Linked DNA regions of Homo sapiens: all the other regions are reported to be linked to region 1. Evidence: microRNA targets listed by miRTarBase, many of them from high-throughput screens and not tested one by one. Region 1 holds a microRNA gene; each other region holds the end of a gene's coding sequence. Distances are between the middles of the regions.
What was found. The annotated mature microRNA hsa-miR-196a-5p reads UAGGUAGUUUCAUGUUGUUGGG and lies in region 1 at 3,605-3,626, shown strand. An mRNA with a match to its seed (bases 2 to 7 or 8) in the 3' UTR can be bound and repressed. Matches are read on the target gene's strand: a 7mer-m8 pairs with bases 2 to 8, a 7mer-A1 pairs with bases 2 to 7 and ends in A, and an 8mer does both.

Region 2: miRTarBase lists MMS22L as a target of hsa-miR-196a-5p. Seed matches in the 3' UTR shown: 7mer-m8 at 3,493-3,499 and 7mer-m8 at 4,436-4,442.
Region 3: the mRNA of PDCD4 is a reported target of hsa-miR-196a-5p. The part of its 3' UTR that is shown has no 7-base or 8-base seed match.
Region 4: the mRNA of SARAF is a reported target of hsa-miR-196a-5p. Seed matches in the 3' UTR shown: 7mer-m8 at 4,731-4,737.
Region 5: miRTarBase lists FMNL3 as a target of hsa-miR-196a-5p. The part of its 3' UTR that is shown has no 7-base or 8-base seed match.
Region 6: miRTarBase lists VCF1 as a target of hsa-miR-196a-5p. Seed matches in the 3' UTR shown: 7mer-m8 at 3,659-3,665.

The regions. Positions count from the first base shown.
Region 1 is chr17:48,631,158-48,636,157 of GRCh38, reverse strand. MIR196A1 (microRNA 196a-1) reads left to right here and starts at 3,599; the gene lies at 3,599-3,668. HOXB-AS4 (HOXB cluster antisense RNA 4) reads right to left here. Exons shown (of 2, transcript NR_046611.1): 2 at 1,226-1,607. It overlaps LINC03057 (long intergenic non-protein coding RNA 3057), which reads left to right. Exons shown (of 2, transcript NR_186590.1): 2 at 1-1,354.
Region 2 is chr6:97,142,020-97,147,255 of GRCh38, reverse strand. It overlaps MMS22L (MMS22 like, DNA repair protein), which reads left to right. Exons shown (of 25, transcript NM_001350599.2): 25 at 369-5,095. The coding sequence ends at 450. Among named protein-coding and RNA genes, the nearest start is that of MMS22L, 140 kb to the left of the region's middle.
Region 3 is chr10:110,897,430-110,902,665 of GRCh38, forward strand. PDCD4 (programmed cell death 4) reads left to right here. Exons shown (of 12, transcript NM_014456.5): 12 at 599-2,577. The coding sequence ends at 659. It overlaps BBIP1 (BBSome interacting protein 1), which reads right to left. Exons shown (of 4, transcript NM_001195305.3): 3 at 4,109-4,183; 4 at 1,301-3,097. The coding sequence ends at 2,931. It overlaps MIR4680 (microRNA 4680), which reads left to right and starts at 661; the gene lies at 661-726.
Region 4 is chr8:30,059,078-30,064,298 of GRCh38, forward strand. SARAF (store-operated calcium entry associated regulatory factor) reads right to left here. Exons shown (of 6, transcript NM_016127.6): 6 at 3,926-4,836. The coding sequence ends at 4,811. Among named protein-coding and RNA genes, the nearest start is that of SARAF, 21 kb to the right of the region's middle.
Region 5 is chr12:49,641,532-49,646,767 of GRCh38, forward strand. FMNL3 (formin like 3) reads right to left here. Exons shown (of 26, transcript NM_175736.5): 26 at 1-4,372. The coding sequence ends at 4,284. It overlaps PRPF40B (pre-mRNA processing factor 40B), which reads left to right. Exons shown (of 26, transcript NM_001031698.3): 19 at 377-493; 20 at 704-841; 21 at 1,049-1,144; 22 at 1,399-1,485; 23 at 1,692-1,866; 24 at 2,160-2,221; 25 at 2,330-2,473; 26 at 2,569-3,134. The coding sequence ends at 2,661. Among named protein-coding and RNA genes, the nearest start is that of PRPF40B, 21 kb to the left of the region's middle.
Region 6 is chr17:73,205,374-73,210,571 of GRCh38, forward strand. VCF1 (VCP nuclear cofactor family member 1) reads right to left here. Exons shown (of 4, transcript NM_001098832.2): 4 at 1,992-4,395. The coding sequence ends at 4,156. It overlaps COG1 (component of oligomeric golgi complex 1), which reads left to right. Exons shown (of 14, transcript NM_018714.3): 10 at 180-307; 11 at 781-889; 12 at 1,335-1,444; 13 at 1,808-1,883; 14 at 2,941-3,134. The coding sequence ends at 3,078. Among named protein-coding and RNA genes, the nearest start is that of COG1, 15 kb to the left of the region's middle.

The DNA.
Region 1 (5,000 bases):
GGAAAACGTTTGGGGGTGAAAAGAAATGTTGCCTAACTGGCCTTTACTCACGGAGTGACCATCATCTCAGCTAGTTAGTGTATGAGCGGCACCAGCACCCCGGCCATGGGTGTCTGTGCTGAGCCTCTGAAAGTTGACTTATCCTTTGGGGAGCCCTCGGAAAGACACAGCTGGTATCTATGGGAATGGCTTTGGGGTGTCCTTTGGCACCATACAGATAATTTTGTTTTTTTAATTGGAATCCATGGCCTGGGTTCTTGGGATGGGGGTAGGGGGAAGCCACAAAGCCCCTGGAAATGTATGCAAAACATATGGGTGTGCAGGTGCATCATCCTAAGGCTATGGCCTCTTCAGTTTTTCCAAAGAGTCTAAGACTATAAAAGGTTTCCATCTCCTTTTCTCAGCCAGGGAGCCACAGAGACCCAGGCCAGCAGTAGGCTGGGAGCCAGCACACCGGCCCCCACCAGGTGCCCGGTAGGGGATGGGTAATAACACTCTTGAATGGTCTGGAAACTGCTGGCCCCTCAGTCCTGCCGTCCTCCCAGAGGGAAATCCTAATAGAAGAAGTGACAGCCAGTAGCTGCCATCTCAGTATTTTGAATGAAAATATAACATGATAAAGAGCAAATGAGGGAGGCTGGAGGGGCCTCCCCATGCAAATACTGGAATATGAATGTTGGCCAGAAATAAGATACTTCCTGCCCTCCAGCTGTTAAAGAGCTCCCCAATTCCTCCCTTTTGGTGCTAGGAAGGGGCCAGAGGGCACTGCCCCCAGACCACCACCCACCTCTGGAGAGCTGGGGCCGAGTGGGACTGCCTGCAGCAGAGTTAACCCTTCAGAAAATTCAAAACCTATACTGCCTAGTATTTTCCCTGCCCGTTTATTTTTTAATCAGATTTTTAAAATATCCAGCAGCACTTTGGTGCCTTTTCTTGGGGTTGGGGAGTGGGGTTATCTATGTGTGTATCTATGGGAAGGTGGGTGCCTTCAGTGCACTAAACCCCCTCTTGGGCCTGCAGCTGGACCTCACTCCTGTACCTGAACACTCTGCCTGAGCCTGAGCTAATCTTAGCCATCCATTGTGTCTCAAAACTGTTTTGGAGGTGAATAACTGTGAGGCAGGATGGAGAACCTTTTGCTCTCCCATCCAGAAGGGCACCTAACCAGGCCCCTGGAGCAGACAAAAGGAGCAGGAAGTCAATCACTTCGATCCCAGTTCTCTGAAGCCCAAGAAGAAAACGGATTTTCCTTCGTTTTGGTTCGGAGGCCTAGTAGAGAATTTGGATTCCACCAAGTTCTCTTTTTTCAAAAAAAGTAAACGGTCCAGAGCAGACAAAAACTGTGGAAACTTGAGGCCTGGGTAGTAGTGGTTTTGTTTGATTTTGAGGCTTTAAAGAGATAAGGAGACGGTGGTGGAGCTCCGCCACGCCGCGTGGCTCTCACTTCCACGCCGAGGAAGACCGACCGGCCCCTAGGTTTATCCTCTGGGAGCCCCCGGCCCAATCAGCCCCCTTCAGGCCTTGGGAGTCACCCCGAGTCTTATCTTCTGTCCCCTTCCAGCAAGTACCCGGCAATAAACGGGCAGGGCTGGGCAAAGGTCTGGCCGCTAGAAACGGAAAAGGAAAGAGAAAAGTAAAGTTAAACAAAAAACAAAAACAAAAAACCCTTGGGTCGGGCGCGGTGGCTTACGCCTGTAATCCCAGCACTTTGGGAGGCCGAGGAGGGTGGATCACGAGGTCAGGAGTTCAAGATCAGCTTGGCCAATATTGTGAAACCCCGTCTCTACTAAAAATACAAAAATTAGCCGGGCGTGGTGGCGGGCGCCTGTAGTTCCAGCTACTCGGGAGGCTGAGGCAGGAGAATCGCTTGAACCGGGAGGCGGAGGTTGCAGTGAGCCGAGATCGCGCCACTGCACTCCAGCCTGGGTGACACAGCAGGACTCTGTCAAAAAAAAAGAAAAAAGAAAAAACCCGCTTTCAGCGGAAAGATGCAAAAAATGGAGGCCACCGGGCGTGGTTGGGAGAGCCTGGGCTTTCGCAAGGAAGCGCCAGGGAGCCCAGTTCTGCTCTAGCGAGAAGCAGGGAGCCTCATCCCAAGCCCGGCGGGCCGAGCCGATCATAGGGTCTGCGCGGGGCTCTGTGGATTTTCCGTGTAGGCGGCGGCTTCCAGTCTCTGCCGGGCGCGGGCTGGGTCAGCGCCGACTCCTCCGAGAGAAGAGCGCGCCTGGCGGCCGGTTCGGCGGAGGCCAAGTCCCGGGGGCTGGGGCTGCTTCTCTCCACGCGGACAAAGTGTGCGGGCAAAGAAAGGGGCCGAGGCGGGTGCTTCTGCCGCTCGTAAATTTGTTTCCCCTTCCTTTTAATCCGCCCCCGGACGTCTTTCTTTTCAGGACAGGAGGGGATGTAAACCGTTTGAAGTTCATCAACACGGTGAAGTTTTATTGTATTTCCGGTCCCCAAGATTTATACCCGGGAGGGGGAGCGGGCGGCCAGGTGGACTCCCTCGCTACCTCGGACTTCCCTGCCGGACACGTGGCCACTCGGACCCTCGCTTCTGGGCGAGGGCGGGAGGGAGCCTGGACTGGGCCGCGGCCGCTGGCTCCGCACCTTCCGACGGCCGCGCACTGCCGGCACCGCCGCCGCCCAGGTAAGTCCGCCGCCGCCCTCGGCCTGCACAGCTGCGTTTTTGCGATGGGTGCGGGTGTGAGCGTGAGCACCTGTGAGCAGGCGGGTGTCTGGAGAGGCAGAGGTGAGGAGCGGGCACGTTAGGGGGCCAAGGACCCAGACCGAAGGTCAGGAAGGAGGAAGCAAATTTGTTCTCTGTGTCCCAATCCCAGTCCTTAGCCTCTCAGTCCTTATTCTGCGAAGATTCGGAATGAATTGTCTTACCTGGGGCAGCTCGGCCTCTGCAGAGCCAGGGCCCTGGGACATTTTGGGCAGGGTGCCTTCACAGCAACTGTTCAGATCAACCGGCTTTCCCCTCCAAATCCCATTCTTCCTCTGTTTGTTCCCTAGAATTCCCGAAACTTTCTGACACTCTGCTTTTCCACCTTTCTCTCTGTCACTTTCTTTCTCAGCACTCTTTTGTCTCACTCTCCTGTCTGAGCCCCAATCTCAAAGCTGGGGGGTGTGTAGGACTTGAAGATCTGGCCTCTCAGAGCTACACTGGGAGGCTGGGTGACCTGGAATACAGGGGCTAGCAGGGTGCTGAGTATAGATGCACCTTCGTATCTGTTTGAAGTTGAGAATTCTTTTTATCTGTGGAGACCTCCAGCTGGGCTGAGAGGCAGAGACTGAGCAGGTATATCAAAGAGGCCCTGCCCAGGCTTGTGCCTGTGTCTAGGGTCTTCTTCTCTGGCCAGGGCTCCTGGAAGGCAGCAAATGTCTCTGGAATCTGAGCTATCAGGACCGGCTCCAAAATGGTTTTACCTAGAGTCCTGGGTTCAGTTCTTCCGATGTGTTGTTTAGTAGCAACTGGGTTCTTCTGTTGGGGAAGAGGTGGAGCAAAATGAAGTTAAGCCGCTTTTTGGCCCACAAAAAAATGGCCACAGGGTTTGCCCCCAGTGAGCTCTTGACCTAGAGCTTGAATTGGAACTGCTGAGTGAATTAGGTAGTTTCATGTTGTTGGGCCTGGGTTTCTGAACACAACAACATTAAACCACCCGATTCACGGCAGTTACTGCTCCTTGCTTAGCTGGAGGAGTTGGGGGAGGGGAGCAGAATCAGGACTGGAAGATCAACCTTGCAAAATGGGGAAGAGGTTTGAGGTCCTTCATCCAGGAGCAACAAGGATGTTCCCCCAGAGAAGAGATCTGGGAAGTGTCTTCCCACTTCTGAATGTTTTTTTGTGTGTGTGTTAGGAGGGGAAGGGGGATGAGGAGCAGTCAACTCTCCCGAGGCACCTCCCTGGCCCTGTTGGGCTGTTCAGCCCAACCCAAAGATGGCAGTCAGAGCTCCAACTTCCAGCCTTAGGGTCTCTGAGCTCTCAACTACATCCAGAACTTTCCAGAGAAACTCTCCCCAACTTCACAAATATTTGATTTCAAAAGAAATGCAGGGGGTTCTTGAGGTTTTTGTAACTCTTTGCGGGCTGGTGCTCCACCTCAGCAGGAAGCTTCAGGTCCTTGAAGAGGGCTCAGTAGGTCTCATTCTGAAAGGCAAACACTGAGAGCTCTTGCAATCTCAGCCTAAAGCCCTCAGGGTCCTGTCGAAGGCCCCCTATGGGACCAGACCTACAGAAGTAGGTCCGAAAAGTCCTTCCTTTCCTAATCCCTCAGTTGACTTTTTCCTCCCCACCCACCCCAGTGGCCAAAGGCTTCCCACTGGCCTTGGGCTGGGCTGGGGGTACACATAGGTCCTGAGTGCCACCTCCTTGGAGAGGGGCCTGACTTGCAAGCTAATGGGGAGCCCAGGTTGTTGGACAATTCAACCCCGACTGATGCAGTGACAAGGGATGAAACCAGGGGTTGGGCAGGGCAAGACTCTGATACCCTCTCTGACCTCGGTCCTCTTAAGGCTGTTGGCCCTGTGCCCAGGAAAGGAATAACTAGAAGTGCTGGTGGAAGAAGGGGGACTTTCCAAAGCATAAGCTAACTTTTGTTCCCAAACCTTCCCCCTGCTGCTTGAGGCAGAGGAAATGTGCAAAGGGGCCCGGGAAAGAGGCCCGACCGGATGGGGCTTCGGCGCCAGGCTGACTTGGAGGGCCAGGGGGTCTCTGAACAAGGGGCTTCTGCTAGAGCAGAGGGGCATTAGGGAGACCCACCCCTAGCCTAGGGGAAATGGAGCCTTCAACCCACTGTCCTGATAAGCAAAGGCTAACAACTCTGTCCCTTGACAGTTTCTCATCCTCTGGTCTGGGTGGAGATGGCCTGGCGCGTCCCTGCGGCCTTATCTCACTTCTCCCTGGGCCTCTCACAAACCTGCCCAGTCACTCAGAGCCTGACTGTCTTCCATCCCTGGTGTCCCTTGGCCACCCCCTCCCAGGAAAAGTGCTGTAAAAAGAA
Region 2 (5,236 bases), not on the chromosome of region 1:
TTAATACTTACGCTTGTGATACAAGTCTTCCCATTGTAATCATACCATCATTGTCCTTAAATAATATTCCATGAATGCATTTTATTACCCGTGAGCATTATAATATTTCGGAAGGTTAATGAACTTTTACATGTCATTTTTAGCACACATTTTATATATAAAAATCATACTTTAATACATCTTAACATCTAGGTTTACTCACAATAGATATAAAGCATTACTTTTTAAGAAGTGTTGTGCTAAGCCTGCTGGATGGATGGCTGAATAGATGGATGGATGGATGATGGGCAGACTTAATTTGTAAATACTGAAATGAAAAATAATGAAAATGTTAATATATTTGCTTTCTTTTCTTTTTTCTTAAACAGGGAAGCCTATAGCAAACTTTTGTCTCACCTTGGACAGATGGGACAAGATGAGATGCAGAGACTGGAAAATGATAATACTTAATATATTTTGTGATTCATCCTGTCTATTAATTATCAGTATCTAAAGCCACATTGTTCCACTCTAATTCCTACTTTTAATTAATTGTATAATGTTCTGTTTAAAATAATTTCTAGGATTTTTTTTCCTTTTATATCTGTAAGTAAAAAATGTATAAATAAGGAACTGAAGGTTAATTAGCAACTGTGTAATAGGATCCTTGGAACTTTTTACAAAACTGCATTCTACCTTGATGAAATTTTAGTTAAACTAAATTAAAGAAACATTTTCTGAGAGTGTTTTCTGTGTGTGAGTATTAAGCAGATACTTCATCCATAGACTTTTTGTTGTAGTATGACTTCCTGCCTCCCTGCCTTGTGACTGATTTGTCATGTTTATTTTTTATTTTTACAATAATAGTTATGTTTTAAAATGATACTTTTTCAAAGTACCTGGCTACCCTATACTGTGTTTTTGGTGGGGGAAAGGTGTTGGGAAATGTGACTGTGTATTTGTTTTTCTTTTTTATATGTGTGAGGCAAGTTAACAAAGAAAACCCTTACAAAGCACACTTAACTGTGTTAGGAATGAGACTGAATCTGGCTAAAGGATTATACAGCTGATATCCAAAAAGAAGTGTAAACATGCCAACAGGGTTTATATTTAGGTTCCAAGAGTTGCCAAATTTTTTTTTTATTCATCCTTTCTTTTGGAGTTGTCATTAAAAAAAAAATCATATCAGGAGGAGGAAATAAAGGAGACTTTAAGAGGAGAGTAAATAAAAATATTCTAGAAAAGTAACAATAGTAGTGGTCTGAGAAGTCAGCTGATCCATCTTCTTGCTCTTTAGCCAGAGCTTCTTATAACTTAGCATTTTATCCAAGAAACCTGTTTAGTTTCCTTTAACAACATTGTTTCTCAACTTTTGAACTCTTAACTCATCCAGATTGTTTTACCAGTTGGAGCTTGTCCTTGACTCCTTTTCCTATTGAGCATTATTTGGTTGAAAGAGCTCCAGTCCTAGTTTTGGGAACCCACCTGGGTCTCAAACTCAGCTTTGCTTTATGATCTTGAGCTAGTTACGTAACCTTTCTCAGTCTAGTTTCTTCATGGAGAAGAAAAGAAGAATCCCTTTACTATTTGACAGTGTTGTTGTGAGAATCAATGGGATAATGTACGTGAAAATATTTGGTGGCCCAAATTCTGTTGGGAAATGTACAGACACGATTAGTTTATTACTCGTGCACAATTAAGGCAAAGAACACCTCTCAATTTTATCTTTCTCTAATGATATGTCCCAGATGAATGATCCCACTTTCCAATGTTTTCTTACATCATGTTTTCTAACTTTGAAGTACTTTGTTTCCTTCTTGGGATTATAGTCTTTATCATGGTTCTACTCTTCCTTCAAGAAAACATTTCAACCCTTCTCTGGCTCAAGGAGTATCTTTAAAAATGAAATACTTTGCAATCAGTATTCTGTAGTTAATAGCGTTCTCTTAATTATAATCTGTGAAATCCAAAGGAGTGTCTGTTATTTTCATAACATATAAATGGTCCTTCTCTCAAATCAGCTTCATCAAAGGGAATAAATGAAAGCTTAAGGCTGTTTAATAGACTTCATAACACTGAATTTCTTTTCATCATGATAGTGACTTACTAAACAAATAATGTATGGCTTGGAAAGTTCCAGCAGTCACTAAGGAGTTTTATCTATTTAAGGTGATGCCTTTAAAGAGGTTATTTATGTGTATATGTGTTTTTGTGTGTGTGTGTGTGTGTGTGTGTGTGTGTGTGTGTGTGTGGGTTTTTTTTTTCCAAAGGAGATTGATAAAGATACCTTTGAGAATCTTGCTCCTTAGAGTATGAAAACGTTTAAAGGATAGGAAAAGCTGCTACTGAATCATGCTTTAGGACATATATCTATAGATACTAAGAATAACTAAAATTTGTACTTAAGAATGGTAACAACAAAGTGTGTAACAATATGTGTGTGTATTATATGTTTTGTATTTATGTATAAGTAACTTTTTTTAAAGCTTTTTTTTAAATTGAAAAAAGAAGAAAATTTATGGCTCAGTTCCTTTTTTTTAAAATCTTCACTGATCCTTCACTTATTACTACAATCTTGCCCTCTTTCATTCCCAGACTTGGAGTCCCTTATACCTGCTTCTTTAATAGCCACTTTCCCTAAATACCCTGTAATTTCTGAGGCTGCTGCTTCTACCAGTGTAATACAAGCCATTGTCTTTTGGTCAAATCTGAGTTTGTTCTCCTTTCTCATGTTCTTTGTCCTCTCTGTGACAATTGTATTTTCTTTTATCTTCCCATCATTTCCACAATGGTACTGCTCCTTCCTACATATACAGTTGACCCTTGAGCAACACAAGTTTGAACTGTGCAGGTCCACTTATATGTGGATCTAAAATACAGTATTTGTGGGATGCAAAATCTGAGTATATGGAGGACCAACTTTTTGTAGAGGCAGGTTCCTCAGGGTTAACTGCAGGACTTGAGTAAGTGCAGATTATGGTATGCACAGGGGATCCTGGAACCAGTCCCCAGACCAAAAATGACCACTGTATCTTGAGAGCACCTTCATGGTCTTCTTTCCTGTCCCCAGTCGTAAGATACGACCCTTCATCTGCTTTGTCTCAACATTCTGTTAGTGGTGAACTGATAACTCCAGCTTTTCTCTCTCTTTTTTTTTTTTTTTTTTTTTTTGTTGTTGTTGTTGTTGTTGTTTTGAGGCAGAGTCTTGCTCTGTCGCCCAGGCTGGAGTGCAGTGGCACGATCTCGGCTCACTGCAAGCTCTGCCTCCCGGGTTCACGCCATTCTCCTGCCTCAGCCTCCCAAGTAGCTGGGACTACAGGTGCCCGCCACCACGCCCGGCTAATTTTTTTTGTATTTTTAGTAGAGACGGGGTTTCACCATGTTGGGCTCGATCTCCTGACCTCATGATCCGCCCGCCTCGGCCTCCCAAAGTGCTGGGATTACAGGCGTGATGAGCCACCTAGTGCTAATTCATCTCTAAACCTCTGTAGTTGGAGTCTCCTGAAATCTCAGACTACCTCCTGCTTTCATTTTCTACCCAGGGAATACACTATTGTCCTAAGTTATTTAGCCTTGAAATGTCAGAGGCATTTTAGGTTCTTCATGTTTCTCCCACTTTCAGTTGATTACCATTACAGGATCTTAGGCTTCTTTTTATCTTTTTGCAGTGCCTTGCATCCACTGGTTGTTTGTTTTTTCTGTTGGGCACTACTTATTTCCTTACCTCTGGTTTCTTCTCCTACAGCTTATGTTCTGAAATGTGTATTCCTAAAATACTGTTTTCCTCTTGTTACTTTTCTGCTCGAGGACTTCCAGTAACTTACCATTGTTTATAAGGTGATGTTCAAACCCTTCAGTCTGGAGACTTTCTGCCACCTATCTGACTGTACCTTTATCTTCAAGCTTATCTCTTTCCAAACAAGAGGCTCATTTAGCAGCTTTCTCTGATTGCCATGTTCATCCTACACTCAGCCTCATTCAGTTTACAGCATGGAAACTGTATAGGACCTCTTTCCTATAGAAATTGAAGACACTTAAATAGGAAGAAAATTAAAATATACATTTGGATACATGAGTATTCCAGTCAAATAATATCTATAAAATACCAGATAGAGTATAAAAGACAACTGAAGGACAACAGAGTGATGAAAGGACTTTATTAGGCATTTGGATTTGGTTATGATTTAAATTTCAATTTAATTAGAACGTTTCCATGGCAAGGAAGGAAGCATGGAGGACTGTGGAAAAGTCATTCAGTATTGAGTTCATTTGCATTAGAGGAATTTCATAGTTTAAAACTTGTATATCTTTACCTATCCTTCGTATGTTTTCTTCTTAAGCATATTTGACTTTTTCTACCTCAGCATCTGTATAAGAAAATATTTGTGAGTCAGATGTTTGTGGGTTTTCCTTACCTATTATTATTTTCTTCCATGCTTTACAACACATTTTTTAAACTACCTTGTTCTTAAATAATTACACGGACCTGCTTCTGTGTACTTTCACAGAATCTTTGACAGTTAAAAATTGTATGTTATATAAAAATTTGACAAGCTTCTACAGTTAGGAAAAGCCTTTAGAAATCTGCCTTCCCCAAACCGTATGTTATCATAGCACTCATGTCTCCCCATGTCTAAAAGGTAAATAGATACAGAAACCTCACCAAAAGTTGAATCATCTGTACTAAACCACTGCTTTTTTATCCAGACTTTTTATATAAATCTTTTATTTTCCAAAAAACTGATCTTTTACCTACCCCTCTTAGAGTTAAAAATATTGCCTGTCAGGCAAGAGTATAGTATGCCAATATAAATAATATGCTTTATTTGGTTAGAAACAGTTGGTTTGGGAAGCTAGCAACATAGCATATTCTTTACAAATTTAATAAGGTGTATTTTGATACTGTGATAACCTGCATTGTAAATTACCAAATGGTTGGAATTGACCAGTTTATACTTATTAAAATTTTTGATGTGCCAATGGCTATCCAATTCATTGCATTTGTGAATTGTGCTTTTAGAAAAATTGTGGACATTTTAGTTTTATATACATATTTATGAGTTATTTGTGCATATGATAAAATTATATATAATAATAAAAGTATATATGTAACTTACATTGTGCCCTTGATTATTGAAAACTTCCTTTTTATAACAGATTCACTGTTTGGAAGCTAAAGTAAAAATGAGCCATGTTACCAGAAGTAATAATTTCTATCTTATTACTGATGTTTTTATACTTTGTGGTAAAACTATGG
Region 3 (5,236 bases), not on the chromosome of region 1:
CAGCTGTTCCTTCTGGGCTATTGCCACTACATGTAGGTAAGAGTGTGGTTACATTATAGAGCAGGGCTTCTTGAGTTTGACAAAGCACGAATCCCAAAATGGGGCATAGGCTGTAATTCTGATTTTTTTCCACATTCAAGTTATGGCTTTTCTACAGTTGATAAAACATTTTTTTTTAAATTGCCAAACATGGATATTTTGATAGGTTGCACAGCTCCAGTTTGCATAATTCTGAATTATGTTAGTGTTTCCTATTTGGCTTACTGTTAAGCTTACAAATAATAATTAGAAATTAATTAGAAATAATTTTAAATTTCTAAATAAAATGTTTTAGTTTGAGTCAACTTTTTTTAATGTGACTCTGTTTGGATAGTGAACTTATTAAAACAAAAACTCAGATTTGATATTGATGTTTTATGCTAAGATATATAGTAGGGAGTCTTTTCCAAAGGAATTAGAGGCATGCTTTTTTTTTTTAATGGAAAACCCTTTAAAAGCTAACACGTAACGAAAAAATACCAAGTTTTTAATTTTTTTATATATTGACTATAGTCAGAATTTGTATCTGTTTTCATGTCTTTTTTTTTCTTCATTACAGGGGCAGAAAGCGTTTTGTAAGCGAAGGAGATGGAGGTCGTCTTAAACCAGAGAGCTACTGAATATAAGAACTCTTGCAGTCTTAGATGTTATAAAAATATATATCTGAATTGTAAGAGTTGTTAGCACAAGTTTTTTTTTTTTTTTTTTTTAAGCACTTGTTTTGGGTACAAGGCATTTCTGACATTTTATAAACCTACATTTAAGGGGAATTTTTAAAGGAAATGTTTTTTCTTTTTTTTTTGTTTTTCGAGGGGGCAAGGAGGGACAGAAAAGTAACCTCTTCTTAAGTGGAATATTCTAATAAGCTACCTTTTGTAAGTGCCATGTTTATTATCTAATCATTCCAAGTTTTGCATTGATGTCTGACTGCCACTCCTTTCTTTCAAGGACAGTGTTTTTTGTAGTAAAATCACTGGTTTATACAAAGCTTTATTTAGGGGGTAAAGTTAAGCTGCTAAAACCCCATGTTGGCTGCTGCTGTTGAGATACTGTGCTTTGGGAGTAAAAAAAGAAAGTTATTTCTTTGTCTTAAAGAATTTTTAAAAAATTAGTCATGAGACTTATTCATCTTTCCAGGGAACATACTGATTGGTCTTAAAAGACTAGACAGTTAAGTAAAAGGTGGCTGGAACATCTATTTTTCTACAAAACTGGAAAAATGAACCTGGTTCTAGAAGAATGTACACCAAAATAAAACATGTGAAGCAGTATTGATTCTTTATTGGGAGTACATTTTTTTAGGTCTCTTAAACTTTAATTTCACACAGTAAATTTTGAATCTCATAAGGAAGCATATTTGAACCTAGTCAATTTAATCTTAGTGTTCCCTTGAAAACTTTTTTTCCCTACAAAATTTTAAGTGAAAAATACAATAGTAAATTAAGATTACACTGGGGAAAAAAATGCAGGTATCACTTTACTCCATTGTTATCTGACCTAGAGCTTAATTAAGTTTTAGAAATATGTAATACCTTCCATCATTCCATCATCCTTAAATTCTGTTACCAAATAATGGCTAATGTTACAAAAAGTTATACTCCAGAGACCCAAAGCTTGACATTTACCTAATGTATGAGAAAATATTACCAATTAACAATAAAGAATGATCATATTTTTAACCTCTTTTACATAGCCTAATAACTCAGCAAGGCCTCAACGTCTGTGCTAATTTAAACTGCCAAATATTGACTGCAGCAAACAAGAATTATATTCAGAATTTATGAGGGTACTGTTAGGAGTATACTGCTTACAGGTTTAGATATAGTCTGTTAGAATTAAAACCAAGTTTAGTGTTCATATTTACCTCATGGGCTTTATCAAGCCCATATTACCTCAGCTTATATATAGTTACCATTTTTAGGTTTTTAATTGTTTGACACTTGGATGATAAATGCAGTCATTTTATTCTCAAGTGCTTAAAATTAATGTAATTAAAAGCTTAGCTGACTACAGAATAGGTGAGGGTTTCTTAAAAATGAGATTTAAGGGCTGGGCACGGTGGCTCATGCCTGTAATCCCAGCACTTTGGGAGGCCGAGGTGGGCGGATCACTTGAGGTTGGGAGTTCATGACCAGCTTGACCAACATGAAGAAACCCTGTCTCTATTAAAAATACAAAAGTAGCCAGGCATGGTGGCGCATGCGTGTAATCCCAGCTACTTGGGAGGCTGAGGCAGGAGAATTGCTTGAACCTGGGAGGCAGAGGTTGCAGTGAGTCGAGATGGTGCCATTGCTCTCGTTTGGGCAACAAGAGTGAAACTCTTGTCTCAAAAAAAAAAAAAAATGAGGTTTAAGACAGTTTTGTCATTACTGGTGGGATCTGGTCACACAAGATAGCATTAAACGTGACATGGCACATAAAATTGGTTAAAAAATTTTGTTTTTTAATTACGTAATGTAAAAGCCCAACAAACACTTTATGCAAGATTGGAATGTATCTTCAAATTCAGATTTAATAAACATGTAAAGATCCTCTGTATATAAAAGTTGTATTTAATCCCTTGTGCCCAAGAATGCTATAAAAGATCCCAAGAATGTTATCTATAAAAGATAGCAATAGGAATGGTGAACAAATAATTTAATTTGCAATTCTAAAAACATGACTTAAACCCCATAAAACTTGGTTCATAGTTTAACTGTTTATGTTCAATACAAACCAGAGTGTTTACATTCACAATACAAATTTCATCAATCTTGGATATTTTTGTATTTCTATGAATACTATCAATTTTATTGATAACACATACTACTTTCAGCACACAGAAGCATATTTTCTAGTTATTGTTAAATAGTAGATAAGGCAGGTTGTTCCCTAAAGTGCTCAGTTATCATTCAGTGGGTTATTTGCCGTTGATCCTTTTCTGCCATTTCTTGTTGGCGAATTGTATTCTGTGCTGCTTGATGCATTTTCTCTAGTTTTTCCAGAGTCAGAGATTTTAAGGGTAAAAGTTTGGGTTTACACAGCACCATTGTCATTATATCTTCCACAAACAGTGGCCCTAAGTTTAACAAGAAATAAGAATTAATTCAAGAAAGATAACCCAGTTGTTTGTAGTTGGATTTGCAGCTAGAATGAAGGTCTAAAAAATTAATCTCTTGTCACTGAAAAACTCTTGTACCTAAATTGAGTTTTGCTCTGGAACCAGAAAGATCATTGTCATTCTATAAGCGCATTTCTTACTAGTAGGGTGCTTCTGAGGAAGACAAGTTTTGAGCGTTCTACCCAAGAATCTATGCTACCATAAGACACAACTTTTTGTGTCAGAAGTTTAATCTTAAAATAAGATTTGGCAGAATATATATATACATAGTGCAAAAAAATATAGCAAAATATGATATTTAACGTAAATATTCAAATGACTGAAGGTTTAAACCTTCGGCTTTTCTTACTGTTGCTTCAGGTTTCTCTTTCTCCACTTTCAGACCTTATTTAACATAGTAAATTCCATTATTTCTTTCACTGAAGTTTCATATTGAGTAGGGCATGGTAGCTCTTACCTGTTATCCCAGCACTTTGGGATGCCAAAGGGGTTGGATTGTTTGTTTGAGCCCAGGGGTTTGAGACCAGCCTAGGCAACACATTGAGATCCCTTCTCTACAAAAATAAGAACAAATTAGCCAGGCATGGTAGCACATGCCTGTAGTACTAGCAAATCAGTAGGCTAGGGCAGGAGCCCAGTAGTTCAAGGCTGCGGTGAGCTACGGTTGTGCCAGCTGTACCCAAGCCTGGGTGGCAGAGTGACAACCTGTCTCTTAAAAAAAATTCATATTGTAATTAGGAATTTTAGGAATTAGCTAATTAATAGGCAATTTTAGGTATAAGAAACAATGTTTCATTTGTTATCCTTTTACTGGATGTCATGAAAAAGCATATAGTAAAAGACAGTAAATGAGATAATACGGAACACAATAGCTGCAGATGTTTAGCTATTAAGCCTGCTATGTGACACTGCCTATGACTTCTTTAGTCCTGTAATAATCAATGACCTCAATATTTGTGATGTACATACCTTGCTTTGGAAGAACTTCCCGGAACATTGACTTCACTTCTGCCATATCTGAGTTGTTGGATATAGTGTTTTTTCCTTCAATGAGAAATCAGTATTATTCAAGAATACATTCCCAAAGCAGACTGCCTGAGACATTTCCATTGTAGTTTAAGAAGTAAAATCCAAATTCCTATAGAAAGTGAACTACCCTAACCTTGTATAATATTGCCATTAATTTCCTGTGACCTTGGGATAGTTTGTATAAGCATTTAGATCTTGTCAACTTCCATTAGTCAGTTGTGGTGTTAACTACAAGGCTAGGTGTTGTAATTTTTTTTCTCTCATAGTGAAAACTTGGTAGAGCTTCAGTTTTTAAGGCAAAGATGATTAATATCATCTGAGGAAAAGGTATTTGTGTGTAGCCAGCGTGGTTCGTTGATAGCATCTCCCCTGAATGGTGGGTGACAAAAAACATGACCACCATTTGATGGGGGTGGTGAGGCAGGTAGTTAGGAAAAGTAGGAACTGGCAGGCTAACATTTCCTAAGATTCCTACTTGTCTCAACGGCCAACAGCTGGTTTCTACTTTGTGTCTAACAAAAAGAATCCTATGGATGACTGACTACACAGCTGCAATTGGTAACGAAGTAATACAATAGGTGAAATTGGCTCTTGCAGAACAGAAATAGAGTTTCAGTTTACTATTTTCCTCTAATACCGAGATTCTATATGCGAAAGGACCAACAATATTTAACTATTTGTTATGAACATCCCAGCATATATGCCATTTTTGCCAGTGACATTTGCTCCAAGTATTACAGTCAAGATTCTGCTATGCTGTGTGTTCAAGGTGTTCTGGACTAAGCTGTAGAATGATCCCTTTCCAAACACAGATGCTTTTCTAGACGGTCCCACCCACTCAGTGATTCACCTTGCTGATGCAACCTTACCATGCATCTTTCACAACATCACCCCCACAGATTTATTATTTATAAAGTGGTGAATCTGGCTTGGTGCCTGCCTTTACCAACCACTGCAAATTAATTATAATCAAGTGAAGCTTCTTCTGGTTTTTGTTATTCCCGCTCCACTACTTTGACATTCCTAATAAAAGCTTCCTACTCTGTATTCAAGTCTCTTCCTCTCTCT
Region 4 (5,221 bases), not on the chromosome of region 1:
AGATGCCGGCACCATGCTTCCTGTACAGCCTGCACAACTGTGAGCCAATTAAACCTCTTTATAAATTACTTGGTCTCCGGTATTCCTTTATAGCAACACAAATGGACTAACATAGACTCTATTTCCAAATAAGATCACATTCTGAGGCACAGAGCTCAGGCACTTTCTGTGTCCCTCCATTTCACCCCATTTCCTCACTCCAACTCTCCCTAGTCGCCTTCATCTCTAACTTGGATGTTCTTCCAATTGGGATTCCCCACAAGTCCTCTCAGCCCCTTTAATCAAGTGTCCATATCACAGCCACTATTGGTTTATCATTTTTGTAGATAGAGGTAGTTCTAGTGACTTTCACTTGGCCTATGCCACCATAACAGCCTTCATTCCACAGGTCAGGGACCCAACGTAGAGATTCTGCTAGTTGCTGAGTATGTCTATTCTAATCCTGCATTCTAGAACGCAGGTTCCATTCCTGTGTAATAATCACAGGATCATTCGAGGGACCCATGGGACTCACTGTGAAATTGATCTGAGCTAAAACTCTATAAGCTCTTACTCTGACTGGTGGACCACAGTAATGTTTTGAGCCTCCTGGAATTAGCATCAATTCAGTGTCCAGTAATCCCTAAACTATCTGATTATTTTCCCTTTCCCCAGGGCATAGTTACCCCAGTAAATAGCCACGGGTCCATTGAGGGAAGACTGGGGGAAAGATAAACAATATAAACCTGGCAATGTGGTAGGGTTCTTCCTCAAGGGGAACCCAGCCTCTCCTTCATTGAAGGGATTCTGGAGCTATAAACCAGCTCAAGTCTAGGAAATGATTCAGAGGCTATGACTCACTTGTGGTGACTTAAGATAGACTTCTGTTGGCTGGGCACAGTGGCTCACACCTATAATCCCAGCACTTTGGGAGGCCGAGGCGGGCGGATCACCTGAGGTCAGGAGTTTGAGACCAGCCTGGCCAACTTGGTGAAACCCTGTCTCTACTAAAAATACAAAAATTAGCCAGGCATGGTGGCAGGCGCCTGTAATCCCAGCTACTCGGGAGGGTGAGGCAGGAGAATTGCTTGAACCTGGGAGGCAGAGGTTGCAGTGAGCCGAGATCATGCCCCTGCTCTCTCCAGCCTGGGTGACAGAGTGAGACTTGGTCTCAAAAAAAAAAAAAAAAAAAAAAAAAAGACTTCCGTTTACTCAGCCTAGAACTCTTCCACATACATAAATCAAATAAGAATTTAGTAGACTGCCATCTATTTCTTCCATAGGTACACAATGATCAACCAGCCAATGCCATAGGTCTCTGAGTCAGACAATTCTTGTTAATTTTTGTTTCATAAAATTTTTTGTAGAGATAGAGTCTCACTATATTGCCCAGGCTGGTCTCAAACTCCTGGCCTCAAGCAATCCTCCTGCCTCTGCCTCCCAAAGTTCTGGGATTACAGTCATGTGCCAGTGTTCCTGGCCTGAGTCCAACAATTCTGATGGCTGCTTTGACTCTGCTGCCCATTACAGCATAACCATGCCACGCTATCTTTGCTGATTGTCACCATTTGGCCCCTGCTACCCTGGGATCAAATTAACCCCACTGCCTCTAGGGGTCCCAGTTTGATGGTAGCAGTTCCCACTGTACATTCTGACCTACAAAGAAGAGAAACCAAATTTGTGGGCCTCCTTCTCAAAAATCTATTTCTCACCATCATGGTGAAAAGTGTATTCTCTTGACTCCTCCAGGGTGGGTGGGTGGGGCTTATATGATAAATCCACCCTAACATTCCAATCTCCCTGAGCCTTTGAATCCCTTCCTCCACAGTACACTGAGGCAGTTCTGGCATTTTGACTTTAGTGTAGGCCATCTTCGAGTCCATGTTCAGCAAACCAACTAAACTGTTAAGAGTCCTTTCTAACCTCTCAAATATTGAATCCAGAATCTCTGCTGAGTGGGCCAATATCAATAAAGTTGTCCTGACTGAACTTTACAGTCCTACCACCATATCCTACACTCTAAGATCCATTCCCACACATATTCCCCAGATTTCTATCTGTATAGACTGGGAAAATCATGGAGTCCTTTTGGTGTGCAGGGTACCTCCTCATGGATCATAATTTGTACCTCACTCTTTGGTGCCTACTGGAACGTGAGTCTAGCTGTACATCTAGGAGCAAAGCAGGTAGCAAGGGCAGACCCTGAGGCAGATGAGTGATGCCTGGTAACGAACACCTCTGAAGAGACCATTACAGATCCTTCAGGCAAAGTAGGATTAACCTTCTCAGACAGAAGTAGAAGGGCTGCTTCTACCGGCAAGAAATACTACGCAGAATTTAGGGGTTCCATTTCACTGGCTTCATCAGGATCCTTTCTTATGTCCCCATTCCACTTTTCAGGATCCCACTGCTTCTCAATCAATGCTCTCACCTTATTTTTTTAAGAGACAAGGTCTCACCCTGTTGCCCAGGCTGGAATGCAATGGCAAAATCACAGCTCACTGCAGCCTTAATCTCCCGAGCTCAAGTGATCCTCCCACCTTAGCCTCTGGAGTAGCCAGGACTACAGGTGCATACCACCATGCCCAGCTAATTAAAATAATAATCTGTAGAGATGAAATCTTGCTATGTTGCCCAGGCTTGTCTCGAACTCCTGGACTTAAGCAATCCTCCTGCCTTAGACTGTACTATCTTATTATTCTAAGTTTTACATTTGGGGAAGTGATACATGTGAACCTTTTCCATAGACAACAAAGGGCCGGGAGTAGTGGTTCATGCCTGTAATCCCAGCACTTGGGGAGGCCATGGTGGGAGGACTGTTTGAGGCCAGGAGTTCGAAACTAGCCTGAGCAACATAGTGAAACACCATCTCTACCAAAAAAAAAAAAAAAAAAAAAAAGTTCTTAAATGACAAGGAAGTACAAATACACAACAGATAAAAGAGGAACACTCAGGTGGGGCTTGAAACCTATACTCTGCCTCTTTTCCTCCCTTCCCTCCAGGGACCCTCTAAAGAACCTCATAAGAACACCACTAGGGCTCCCCAGAGTAATCTAAAAGCCACCAAGTCAACTCTTTTTTTTTAAAGCTATCGCCTACAGGAAGAACAGTCAACTCTCTTTACATTAACTCATTATTTTCTTACAATCCCAATGATCTGCAGTACTATGTTCAAAAACAATCTGAGTAAGCCGGGCGCGGTGGCTCACGTGTGTAATCCCAGCACTTTGGGAGGCTGAGGCAGGTGGAACACCTGAGGTCAGGAGTTCGAGACCAGCCTGGCCAACACAGTGAAACCCCATCTCTACTAAAAATACAAAAACTTAGCTGGGCTTGGTGACAGGAGCCTGTAATCCCAACTACTCAGGAGGCTGAGGCAGGAGAATTGCTTGAACCCAGGAGGAGGAGGTTGCAGTGAGCCGAGATCATGCCACTGCACTCCAGCCTGGTGACAGAACGAGAGACTCTGTCTCAAAAAAAAAAAAAAAGCAACAAACTACATTCTCTTTTATTCCATATCCTTCTACTAAGGAGAAATGGGGTAAGGATTTAGTGGGATATACATAAAGTAAAGCTGTGTTTCTTCTATCAGTTAAAATTTCTACTGTTTTACTGATGAAAAGAGGATAGTTTTATTATGCAATAGTCTTAATAAGGGTTTGTTTTAAATTGGTTCTTATTGGTTGGTGAAAAGTAACTGCAGTTTTAAATGGCAAAAATCATTAAACACATAAGATATAAAACTGGGGCTTTGAGGTTATGAAGCTTAACTAAGTGTAACCATGCAATCTCTGATGGGTTGGGAGGCTTGGAGATTTAATTATTTTTTTCAAACGCTATTTTTTGGCAGAGGCTTCCACACCATTTGTAAATTACTTTTTGAAAACATTTACCAAAAGACTAAGGTACGACTACCACATAAAATTACTGTTTAGGGAGACAGAACTTCTGCATGAACTTTCCCCTTTGGGAAAAAGGGTTTAAAAAAACAAAAAGTAACATTTATTTGCGCCTAGGCTAATAGAAAGAATGAGACTAAACCCCTTGTTTGTTTTTATTGATTCTTTTTAAGATTGAAACAGACTATTACAACAATATTTGAGATTTCACAGAGAACTGCATGCTTTTGTTATTAAAAGACTTTTGTTGAAAAATTTGACCTTTACCTCTTATGAACGAAAGAAATATAGAGGTTTCAAGCATTTTTGCCAGCACAGAGTCATTCACAACAACCTTCTAGATGCTTATTTTCTACCTTTTCCTACAGAAGGTAATATTCAGTTACCAGAAGGCCATCTCCACCACTGAATGATTCAAAGCTTCAGAGCTCAAAAGTGATCAGAACTCACAAATTAGCATAATTAGTCCAAAGCTTGATTTAAATGTTTGAAGAACAGCAAACATCAAATAATATAATACCAAATAGAATATTATAGTCTCTATGAGGTAATAACTCATCAGCTACAACCACCTAAAACTGAAATTTTCTGTACTTAGTTTCTATTAGTACAACACCTTCATTCTTAATGCTTCTTAGGGCATCACAGGTTTTAGAAATTAATGTATTTTTAGCATTCCACAGTAATGATCACTTTCAAAAACTGCAATATACATCTGCATGTTACACTGACATACAACACATAAGTATTTTGTCACACATCAACTTTTAGCCTCAAATAATAGAATACAAAAAGCTACACTGGACATAACACCACAGAACTTTTGAATATCCCCTTTTCCCAATTGTTAACAGGTAGTACTTTTTTTCTAAAGAGAAAGTGATGAAAAATCCAAAATTTCTGCATCCAGTGTTTGACTCCAACTTTCTACTTTATCGTCTCCTGGTACCACCATATCCTAGAATGAGAGGGGTAAAATTTACATTAGTTTTTAAAAATGCATTAGAATTGCTTATAAAATTACAAGTCATACATGTTTATTGTCAGCAAATGAATGAGATAGGAGGAAAGGAAAGAGTGTGCCACTAGGTGGAACTGGGCTAAGCAGGACAGTGCATCGCCTCCCACAGCAACCTTCCCAATCATCAAGCCTACTACACTCACACATGGTTGCTGGGAATGACAGTTAGGACCCCAAAAAAGAGAATGCATTCTATAGTGGGGCCACCATGGTACAGGCAATACTCAAAGTCTAAGCCAAAAAGACAGAGGCCAGTGGCGCATAAGCCATGCCCTGCTACCTCTCACAACTCCAGTGGTAAGAGACGTAATGTGGGGAGGGT
Region 5 (5,236 bases), not on the chromosome of region 1:
CCAAAGGGTAGGGGCCAGCAAATGTTGATTGAGAATGCATGGAAGCACTGCTGAGCAGCAGGAGGGCCCAGCTGGGGCCAGAGCTTTAAGCCAAAGGAACAAAAGTTAATTTTGAGAAACTCAGCATTAATCAGCAGTTGGGAGACATCTCCCAACCCCTTCAGCTCTGTGTGACATCCAAACCAAGGGTAGGCATGGGGGCTTAATTGTCAAGTGATGAGGACTTGGATAACTTGGTTTCTAATGCAGACCACAGTCCTGTGGATCTCTTCCAGAGGCAAGGGCCTTCTTGACCATCTGTAATGTGACCACTCTGCCTGCCAGCTTTGGCCTCAGGCACGTGGTGCCCCTGCTTCATGCACTGCTGTACCCACAGGACCGGGGCTTCTGCGTGGAGGTGAACACGGCCTTTGAGGACTTCGCCCACGTCATAAGCTTTGACAAGAGGGCTGCCGCACTGGACGCAGGCAACATCAAGCTGACCTTCAATAGTGTGAGGGGCTGGGCGGGGCGTGGGAAGTTCTCTAATTCATCTGTGTCTTGCTCCATTCCTTCTCACTCACTGTCCCACTGACTATATTCCCAATTCAGGGGATGGTGGTAGAAGCCCAGACCCTAACTTTCCACCTCCTAAGGTATGCCTGAGTGGGACCTGGCATCCACCCTCCTGGGTGACCCTGTTCCGTGTCCCTTCTTTCCTCAGCTGCTGGAGAAAGCAGAGGCACGGGAGAGGGAGCGGGAGAAGGAGGAGGCACGCAGGATGCGGCGCAGGGAAGCTGCCTTTCGAAGCATGCTGAGGCAGGCTGTGCCTGCTCTGGAGCTAGGCACTGCCTGGGAAGAGGTCAGGAGCGTAGCCTGGCCCCAAGCACCCCTCAAGCCTGAGGGCAGCGGTGCTTCACCACTGAGGGCCCACCCCAGTCACGTCACAGCCCTGGGCCAGCTCCAGTTCCCTTCCTTTCTCTGCCCCAGCCCTGCCCTGTGCTCATGGCGGTGTCCAGGCCAGGCTGAGTGGGGCCTAGTCTGATCAGCAGTGCTCTCCTCGTTCAAGGTCCGTGAGCGTTTTGTGTGTGACTCAGCCTTTGAGCAGATCACCCTGGAGTCGGAGCGGATCCGGCTCTTCCGGGAGTTCCTACAGGTGCTGGAGGTGAGGCAGGCTTGTCCTCTGGATCTGCCTCAGGCCCTTGAACTCATTAGACCAGTTCAACAGAGACCTCAGTGGCCTCCCTCTTACCCTTAGGGCACTCCTGGCCAGCTAAGGAAGGGGAGGCCTGAGGATCCCTGGGATAGGCAGAAGGCTCTAGTCTGAGAAAGGGAGGCAAAGCCAGATTTTAGGAAGTAGGATCCTTCCTGGGGCTAAGTCTGGTGCTGTCCTCACCCTTCTTCCTCTGCCTCTAGCAGACTGAATGCCAGCACCTCCACACCAAAGGCCGAAAGCATGGCAGGAAAGGCAAGAAGCACCATCACAAGCGTTCCCACTCACCCTCAGTGAGTAAGCGTGTAGAAGGGACATGGGGTGAAGCTGGGTTGTTTTGGGGAAATAAACACTTTGTTTTCCCCTTACAATATCTCCCTTGGAGGGAAGTTTGAGGATTCCTTTGGCCCTGGGTCCTCCTCCTCTCTCGAATTCCCAGACGAGGGCTTCTGGAGGGCAGAGAACCTCTGCACTGACATGTATCTGCTGATCTGCCCAGGGCTCTGAGTCAGAAGAAGAGGAGCTGCCCCCACCATCTCTCCGGCCCCCCAAGCGGAGGAGGCGGAACCCCTCAGAGTCAGGCTCTGAGCCCTCTTCCTCACTTGATTCAGTTGAAAGTGGGGGTGCTGCCCTTGGAGGACGGGGCTCCCCTTCCTCCCATCTTCTTGGAGCAGGTAAGCAGTTGCTGTGAGCGTAGAAGCTGGAGAACTGTTGTCCCAGACTGAGAGGATGCCCTCCACAAGCCCCAGCTCCTTTGAGGGTAGACTGGATTGGGAGGGCTGCACCTGTGGAAGTAGAAAGAACTTCCTCTACCTGCCCAAGCAAGAAGCTGGAGAAGGAAAACTGGACTTAGACTTCCTCAGAGCATGAGGTTCCTGCCTGTGAAGAATGAACAGAGGGGCTAGAACAAAGAAAAAGAGCCTGTCTTTCTCCTGTTGGGACTTAGTAGGGATTTTTCTATCTCTAGATCATGGCCTTCGGAAAGCCAAGAAACCAAAAAAGAAAACTAAGAAGAGAAGACACAAGTCGGTGAGTGAAGGAACTTCTACCTAAGCCCCTGCTATTTTGTGAGTTCTGTTCTACCTGCCTCCCAGGCTATCCACAGGAACTGAGGAGGTGGGCTCTGGACTCTTACAGAATAGTCCTGAGAGTGAGACAGACCCTGAGGAGAAAGCTGGCAAGGAGAGCGATGAGAAAGAACAAGAACAGGACAAGGACAGGGAGCTCCAACAGGCAGAGCTCCCTAACCGTTCCCCAGGCTTTGGAATCAAGAAGGAGAAGGTGAGGGGCAGGGGCCCTAGGCCAGTCAGCACGCTGGTCAAGCTTCCACGGCCCTTAGTGCAGGCTAAGGGTGAACTGTGCCTTTGCTCCAACAGACAGGCTGGGACACGTCAGAAAGTGAGCTGAGTGAGGGTGAGCTGGAGAGGCGGCGGCGGACACTCCTACAGCAGCTGGATGATCACCAGTGACCCAATGAGCTGTTCTCTGCCTCGGGTCTGTGTGAGGCCATGGCTCCTGGGCCACCCTCACCGTCTGCCTCAGACTTCTTCCTTAGTCTGGTCTGTGTCCACTTTTTCTAAAGTAACCCCACCCCCAGCACACCATTGTTGGCACCTCTCAAGGTTGCTCTTGGTGTTCAAGGGTCCCCTACTCCCTGGACTAGTGCAGTCCTTGCCCTCAGCCCCAGACCAGAGATGGGTGGTATATGCCATGTGGGGTGGGTGATGCCAGTAGATAAAAGTGTGAGAGAAGGGGTCTCCAGGGAAGAGTCACAGGCTGTTGGACGCAGCCTGGGTGGCAGAGGGCAGGGTCATCACCCTCTAGCATCAGTGCCTGCTCCTGCCTGCCCTGGCCCTGAGGCTCCACCACTTCTTCCTCCACCCAGGACCTAATGTACGTGTGTTTTGTTTTTTGTTTTTTAAATAACAATATTTATAACATGGCCAGTGACTCTTTTCCATGTGCTACTGGGGCAGGCTGGGGACTGGACACATGCCCAGCAGAGGGCACTAGTGTCTCATGGCAGGCCTGCTTCCCTTTGTGTGGCTAGAGCCCACCTAGCCGGTTCTCCTTTCCCCAGAGTTCTGATCTCATCTCCTCCAAAACAGATGCAGTGCCCCAAAGATTTCTTTTCTATCCCCATAGCCCAGGTCAGACTAAATGGCCACCCTAGCCCCCTAAGCTCAGAAAGAGGAGACAAAGTCAGGCCTGGTGCATCAAGCCTTTGTTGAGAGGGGGAGAGTCTGAGGTTTATGTACAGTAAGAGGAAAGGGAGGTGGTACATGTACAAAAAAGTGGGCCCCCACATTCCCTTCCAGGGGCAGAGGAGAAACGGGAAGGTAAGCAAATAGCCAAGACCACCATGCTCCTTGTCCCCTGCCAAAAAAAAAAAAAAAAAAAAAAAAACCGTAGCTGAGGAAAGAAGGTGAAGAGTTGGCACACCCTTTCTCCAGCCATCTGCAGAGAGTGGTTGGTGCAGAGAAGACCTCTGCTCTTCTGCCCACCTTGACAAGGACAGTGTGAGCCTAGAATGAAATGGGCAGAGAAATAAGGGCAGTGAGCCTGACATCTCTCCTCTTACCCTTATCACTAGGGCACAGCTGGCACGGCCCATGCTTCAGAGGGCCTTGCTCCTGGTAAGAGATGAACTGAGACTGGCAGGGTCCCAGGGCTCCCTAAGCCTAGATACATCTAGACCAGAGCTGACCATGGGCCTGCAAAAAGGAAGGGAAAAAAAAAGAAAGAACAGTTGCTCTCTCCTCTCATCCCTCTGGGCTCTAGTGGGAGAGATCTATGTGCCCTGTTTAGGCTAAGGCTGGAAATGGTTTTTCCTAGCCCTGAGCTGACCCTTGGTGACCCTTCAGGAAATGAAGTCAAAGACCTTGGGGGCAAAGTGCAGTACTGGAAGCACCAGGGACCTACAGACCTAGTGCCCATAGTGGCACAAGTAGAAAGATCCAGCCTCAAGAGCTGGGGCGGACATGGTTGAGAGAGCAACACAGCCCTCTCCTGAGCCCTTGGCCAATTCCAGGTCCACTGGTTGGACTTGTAGGACTCTGAGGGGTGAAGTGCTTCTGCCTCCGAGAGGGTCTCAGTGGGGGCCTGGAGCCCGAGGGGGACCACTGGGCGGTGCAGCACTCCTGGCTTGGTGGCGAACAACCATAGGCTGGCAGTGGAGGCCTGTGGGGGAAGAGAGAGACCTGTGAACAGGATGGGAGGGTGAGCCAGGACAGTGCCCTCAAGAGCAGCCCCACAGGTAGGGCCAGGGAGGAGCCAGCAGTGAGGCAGATAAACAGGAGGCTTAGATAAGGCTTGAGGGGTACCCAGTTGGGGAAATTGCTGGTTGGGGAGATTGCTGGGCTTTGCATTTCAGAGGATCAGGTTGGGGTGACTAGAGGCCACTGGGCAGTGGAGAGAGACAAGGTAGATGCATTCAGAAAGAGCCAGAAACTAGGAAAAGACCCCAGGCTGACTGGACGTCAGGAAACAGATCAAGGGACATCTGATACCTCCTGGTCAGAAGCTACTACCAGAGCTCTTATGAGAAGAGAACCGTAGGGAAAGGTTCCTTAGGCCTGGGAATGGACCCTCAACCTCAGCCTCAAAGATCAGAACTGTAGGTCTGGTCCTGCCTGCTCTGGCCTGTTCTCAACACTGGCCTGGTGACTCCCTACCCACTTGGTCTTAGTAGAAGCCAGGACAGCATTAGTGGGAGAGAGACCACTTCCCTAAGGACACATGCAGGGGATATGCCACACTTCTCAGAGCATGGGGCATGCAAGAAGTATGTGTCCCCATTGCTGGGAGGCTGCCAGAGGGTGATTGCAAGTCATGCAGGAAAGAAGGTGCCTGTGGTCTCCCAGCAGGAATCCTGGGAGACGGGCATGCAGAGGGGGCAGCTGCGGTGCCCAGTACCTGTCGGGCCCCAACCTTGGGGGCTAACAGTTTGACTCATCATGGTGGGCTGCATCACAGAAGAAGCGTGAGCCCCGCTTGGCAGTACGGGCCGTGAAAGGGACACTCTTCAGCACTGTGGCCCAGGAG
Region 6 (5,198 bases), 25 Mb from region 1:
AGGTCAAGTTTCTAACAAAATTTGTTTTGTTGTTGTGAGATTAAACTGGCCATATGAGCATTAAAACCATCTGCTTCTGAAATAGCAAGCTGAAACTCAACCAAAACTTGAAGCTGTTTATTACGCTCACATACCAAGTCCTCTCTCTTCATGGGTGGGGACTGGGAATTCATTTGCAGAAAGAAGGTGCATTTCCAGTCACCCAGAACCGGGCGCTGCAGCTGCTTTATGATCTGCGTTACCTCAACATTGTTCTGACAGCCAAGGGTGACGAGGTGAAGAGTGGCCGGAGCAAGCCAGACTCCAGGTGTCGTATCCTCTAGGGAGCTATGTCAAGGCGGTCTCTTCCAAAAGCAAATAGTCCCTTTGCTGGGAAGCCACCAGAGTCAGCCTGTTATACTGCACATTCATTGTGTTTGTTTTGAACAGTAAGTGCTCATATTGCCAGCAAGTTAAATAATGGCCGCCTGCTGGATAAATGCAATGGTCAAGTGAAATAGGTGGACTCTTATTCCCCTCTCTTCTGAGTCAGCCTAGCAGCTGCTGAGTATCATTTGAGCCCTTAGTGCCCTCCTTATAGACAGAACGGGGGAAAGGGTGGACTTCACTTAGACATCATGCTTGAGGGTGACTTAAGCACTATCATCAGTGACAAACGTACTAAGCCAGCAACTAAGTAGAATAAAACCCAACTCCAAGATTTCTACAGCAGTAGGATATCATAAGATTGTTTTTGATCCTAAAAAATGTGGACAGTAATGATCCTAATCCTTTTCTCAGAATTGAGAAAGTGACTGACCACCTGGAAGCCCTCATTGATCCATTTGACCTGGACGTTTTCACGCCACACCTCAACAGCAACCTTCATCGCCTGGTGCAGCGAACTTCTGTGAGTCAAATCAAAAACATGCTTAGTGCGAACGAAGCGATACAGGCTCAAATAACAAAATTAACCTGCTCAAGCACGTAATACTCCAGGATGCAGCATAGGGAGGGGAATAAGACACAAATAGCCGAGTGTAGTTATAAGGACTGAAAGAGGATTAGATAAAATCTCACACACTGAGGCAACCAAGATTTGGCCCCTTAAGTTGTAAATAAGGATTATTACAGTTTTATCCAGGCCTCAGAAAGAGGAATAAAAACTCCCTGCCTCTCAGATTCTGACCTGTGGGCAGTGATAAAAAGTAATCGTGAAGCATAAATGCACTCAGAACATTCCCCAAAATGACAGTTAGAAATACGGTAGCGATGGGTGACTAACCTTTTTTTTTTTTTTTTTGCCTTTCTTTTACCTGCACAATGAAACCTCTGCTCCACCTCTTGTCTGCCAGGTTCTGTTTGGATTGGTGACTGGTACAGAGAATCAGCTCGCCCCCCGGAGCAGTACGTTCAACTCCCAAGAACCCCATAACATCCTGCCACTGGCATCCAGTCAGATCAGGTAAAGGCTGCCAAGAGGCTTCTGCGGGGCACTTCGGGAGGCCAAGGTGGACGGATCACGTCAGGAGATCGAGACCATCCTGGCTAACATGGTGAAACCCTGTCTCTACTAAAAAAAATACAAAAAATTAGCTGGCCTGGTGGCAGGTGCCTATAGTCCCAGCTATTCAGGAGGCTGAGGCAGGAGAATGGCGTGAACCCAGGAGGCGGAGCTTGCAGTGAGCCGAGATTGCGCCACTGCACTCCAGCCTGGGCGACAGAACGAGACTCTGTCTCAAAAAAAAAAAAAAAAAAAAAATGAGGCTTCTGCTGGGCCCCAGAGCTGCCTGTTTGTGCTACTAAATTCTTTCCTCTTGTTTTGGAGGTTTGGACTTCTCCCACTGAGCATGACAAGCACTCGAAAGGCTAAATCAACCAGAAACATCGAAACAAAAGCTCAGGTTGGTGCCAAGAGCAAGAGGCTCATCCGTGGATGGGTCCCCACCTCCCACCGAGCCACCCATGATCAGCTCCCTTTTAAATAACTGATTAAGAACTGAATGACAAAATGCACTAATGCTGCTTTTAATGGCGGCGCAATAGAGAAGTACAAGGTTTTACTAGCTTGAGCTACTAGAAGGTGTAAAAGATGCCCGCTGACACTACCAAGTAGCCTCTTAATAGAAATGTAGAAAATATACAGGACAGGGTGGAGATGAGCTCTTGAATTTAGTAGGGTGAAAGAGTTAACTGCCAACCCGGCACTATCATTGTACTTGTTTGGAGAAAATCTGTTTTGTTCTGGTGATGATGGTTTTATCTTCCCTTTTAGTTGGGTGGGAAGTAACAGAAAATTTGTTTCCCCAAAAGTTTGACATTTTCTTGTTAATACACGTTTCATTTCAGTACGATGCCAACTGTTAAGCCTGCAGGAATCCTCCTGGGTATTTCTGAATTGTGCTGTGTGCATGTGTGTTTGAAAGCTCAAACAGCTTGTCTTCTTACAGCATCGAGTTGTTTGCTTTATTGTTAGACACAATATTAGCAGTGTATCCTTTCCGTATTCCCTACCATCGAACCCATTAAGATCTAAAATCCTTGTCAAGTATCTGGCTTTAAAAGTTGGGAGATGGTAGTTTAAAAAAAAAAAAAGCTCTTGCAAAAACCATCCAGTCCCTAAGCATGGGCTATGTTGCAGCCTCTTCCAGAACAGTTTCCACTGCAGTGATCTTTCAGTTCTGCCCACATTAGGTTAGCAGGCTGTGGAGAGAAGTGCCTGTGTCTACCCTTTTCCCAAGACAGTCCTCATTTCCAAATTCTAGTTTTGTCACAAAGGCTCATGCTGTTCCGTGTCCTCTTCAAATCTGGACCGACAGCAAAGTCCTCTGACTAGAGCCATCGTGCTTCTCAGCTCCGCTTGTGTGTGCCGTGTGGACTCCGAGTGGCGTCGCGCGGAGGGCGAGTGGGCAGGAGGGCTCAGGCCAACTCTAAGGCACTTTTCTCTACATCCAATGGCAGGTTGTCCCCCCGGCACGCTCCACAGCTGGTGACCCGACAGTTCCTGGCTCCTTGTTCAGACAGCTTGTCAGTGAAGAAGACAACACGTCTGCACCTTCATTATTCAAACTTGGCTGGCTCTCTAGTATGACTAAGTAACATGGCAACACATCTGTCTCTCCCTAAATAAATACTACCACATTATTTCTTCTAAAGGTGCCTCTGCTCATCTGATTCTCAGCCACACCAATCTTTCCAGTTTCACTGATGGAATGTGGCCCCCTAGTTACTGTTGGGGGTTACTTTAAGCATCAAGTTAATCCTTGTCCCAAAATTTCACAATACTTGTTGCTTTAGACATCAGTTCAGGTAGCTTACATTTTATCAGCGTTCAACAACACCTTAATTGTTGACACTACAAGGTGGAATTGTCAATGAGATCATGTAAGCTGCTGACTGACCAAGTTTGTAGGACAAAAAGTCATTACATATTACTTTACTTGCAGAACTGTGCCATGTTTCCTACTAAAGTCTGAGGTGCAGACTCTGGTGGAATAGTGACACAGAAGTTATCTGGGTATACAAGAATCTAAAAGACATTCTCTCTGGAAATACAAATATATAACAAAGAGTAGAGACTATTATTAGGGAGTGTGCTTCACTGACAGTCTGAATTGGATCTGATTGTTCTCCTGTTACACAGGAGAGAGTACTTTCAATAGAACATCTACATACTGAGAGGTAGTATGGCAGTTAATTTCAGTGCAAGACTGAATCAAGCTTCCTATATTTTGGAAAAAAACTTATGTTTTTTCATGGAAACTAGATACTCTTTACTAGTTTATTGAATAAAAAAAATTGAAGATCCCGCATTTTTAAAAGGCCCTTTACATAAAGTAGAGTTTCTAGTTGACAGATTTGGAAATCAGTCTGAATGGGACATACTATGGATTCAACACACAGAATGAGTTTTCCTCAAACCACTACCTTGACATAGATTTGATACCCTCCCTCAAAAGAATCCTATAAAAAATTGCTTCAAAGCCCCTTTGAAATTGCAATAGTGCAGCAAAACCACAAGTAAACAACTGCCTGTTAACCTGTTATTTCAAATATAGACTGAAAAGCCAACAGGCATTTTTCGTGTGCAATTTTTCTTTTAAAACAAGTTGTAAGTTGAAATATCAAATCTGCACAGCGCTGTCCCTTCACAGAAGGCAAGAAACTGCCGGCACATCATGTCAGAGGCCGCCCTCGGTGCTGTAGGCTGTGGAAGTGGGCCTCCCTCAGGGTCTGGTTGATGTGGAAGTAGAGGCCTTGGCACAGCGCGGACTGCTCGGGCACGGGCTGAGGCGTGTTAGGGCTGGATCCGGCCATGGTCTGGCTCAAGCTGCCTTCCGGCCCGCTGGCCCTGTCCGGGCTATTGATGCTGCTGCTGCTGCTGCTGCTGCTCCCACCACTGTCACTGCCTGAAGACTGGAAGGAAGAAGAAAGAAACAGGGTCACAATAAGGCTGTTTTGTTTAAGAGCTTTACTGTGGTTTCATGTACAGCGCTCTATTAAGAGTACCTTTCCAGTTCAGCTTGAGGATGAAGACATATACTGGGCTTTGGAATTGATAAAGTACGCTCTCCTAAAACGTTTCATCCTCTCCTCACAGCCACCCTGTCAGGCTGAGCAGGGTTTATTGTCCTTAATACACAGCTCTAGGAGGATGGGTCCAGTCCAGGTTCAAGCACGGGCTGCCTAACTCCAAATCCTTTCAACTATATCCTAATTCTTTTGCACATATTCTATACCTGCTTTTCCCATTCATTTCAATAATTTCCAACCAAAGAAGGCAGTTCTCAGCCTCCAAGGGAATGTATGAGTCATTGGGACAGAGTATAAAAAAGGTGACAAATAAGATGGCTTCTGGGTATAAGCGAAGATAAAAACTAAAAGCCTATGCCAATTTTGTGATCATCATAGACACAAAATGGTATTCTGTAACTGCAGGACACAGACCCTGAAAGGACTTTAATAGACTTCTGGTCAAGTTATCTTATGTTGGCATTATTGCAGTTCATATGTACATGTGTGTACATGAGCGTGCCTAACTTTTTCTTTAATGTAACTAACATGACTTGGTGTTTTAGTCATCTTGGAGAGGCTACTCGGAGATCCCTGATAAGAGTCACTTTCATTCTGCAGTTCATGTTTTAAAAAAAAAAAAAAAAAAGTCACTTTCAGAAATTCCCGCCTTCCACCACTAGGACTCTCAAAGGGGAGGGTGACAC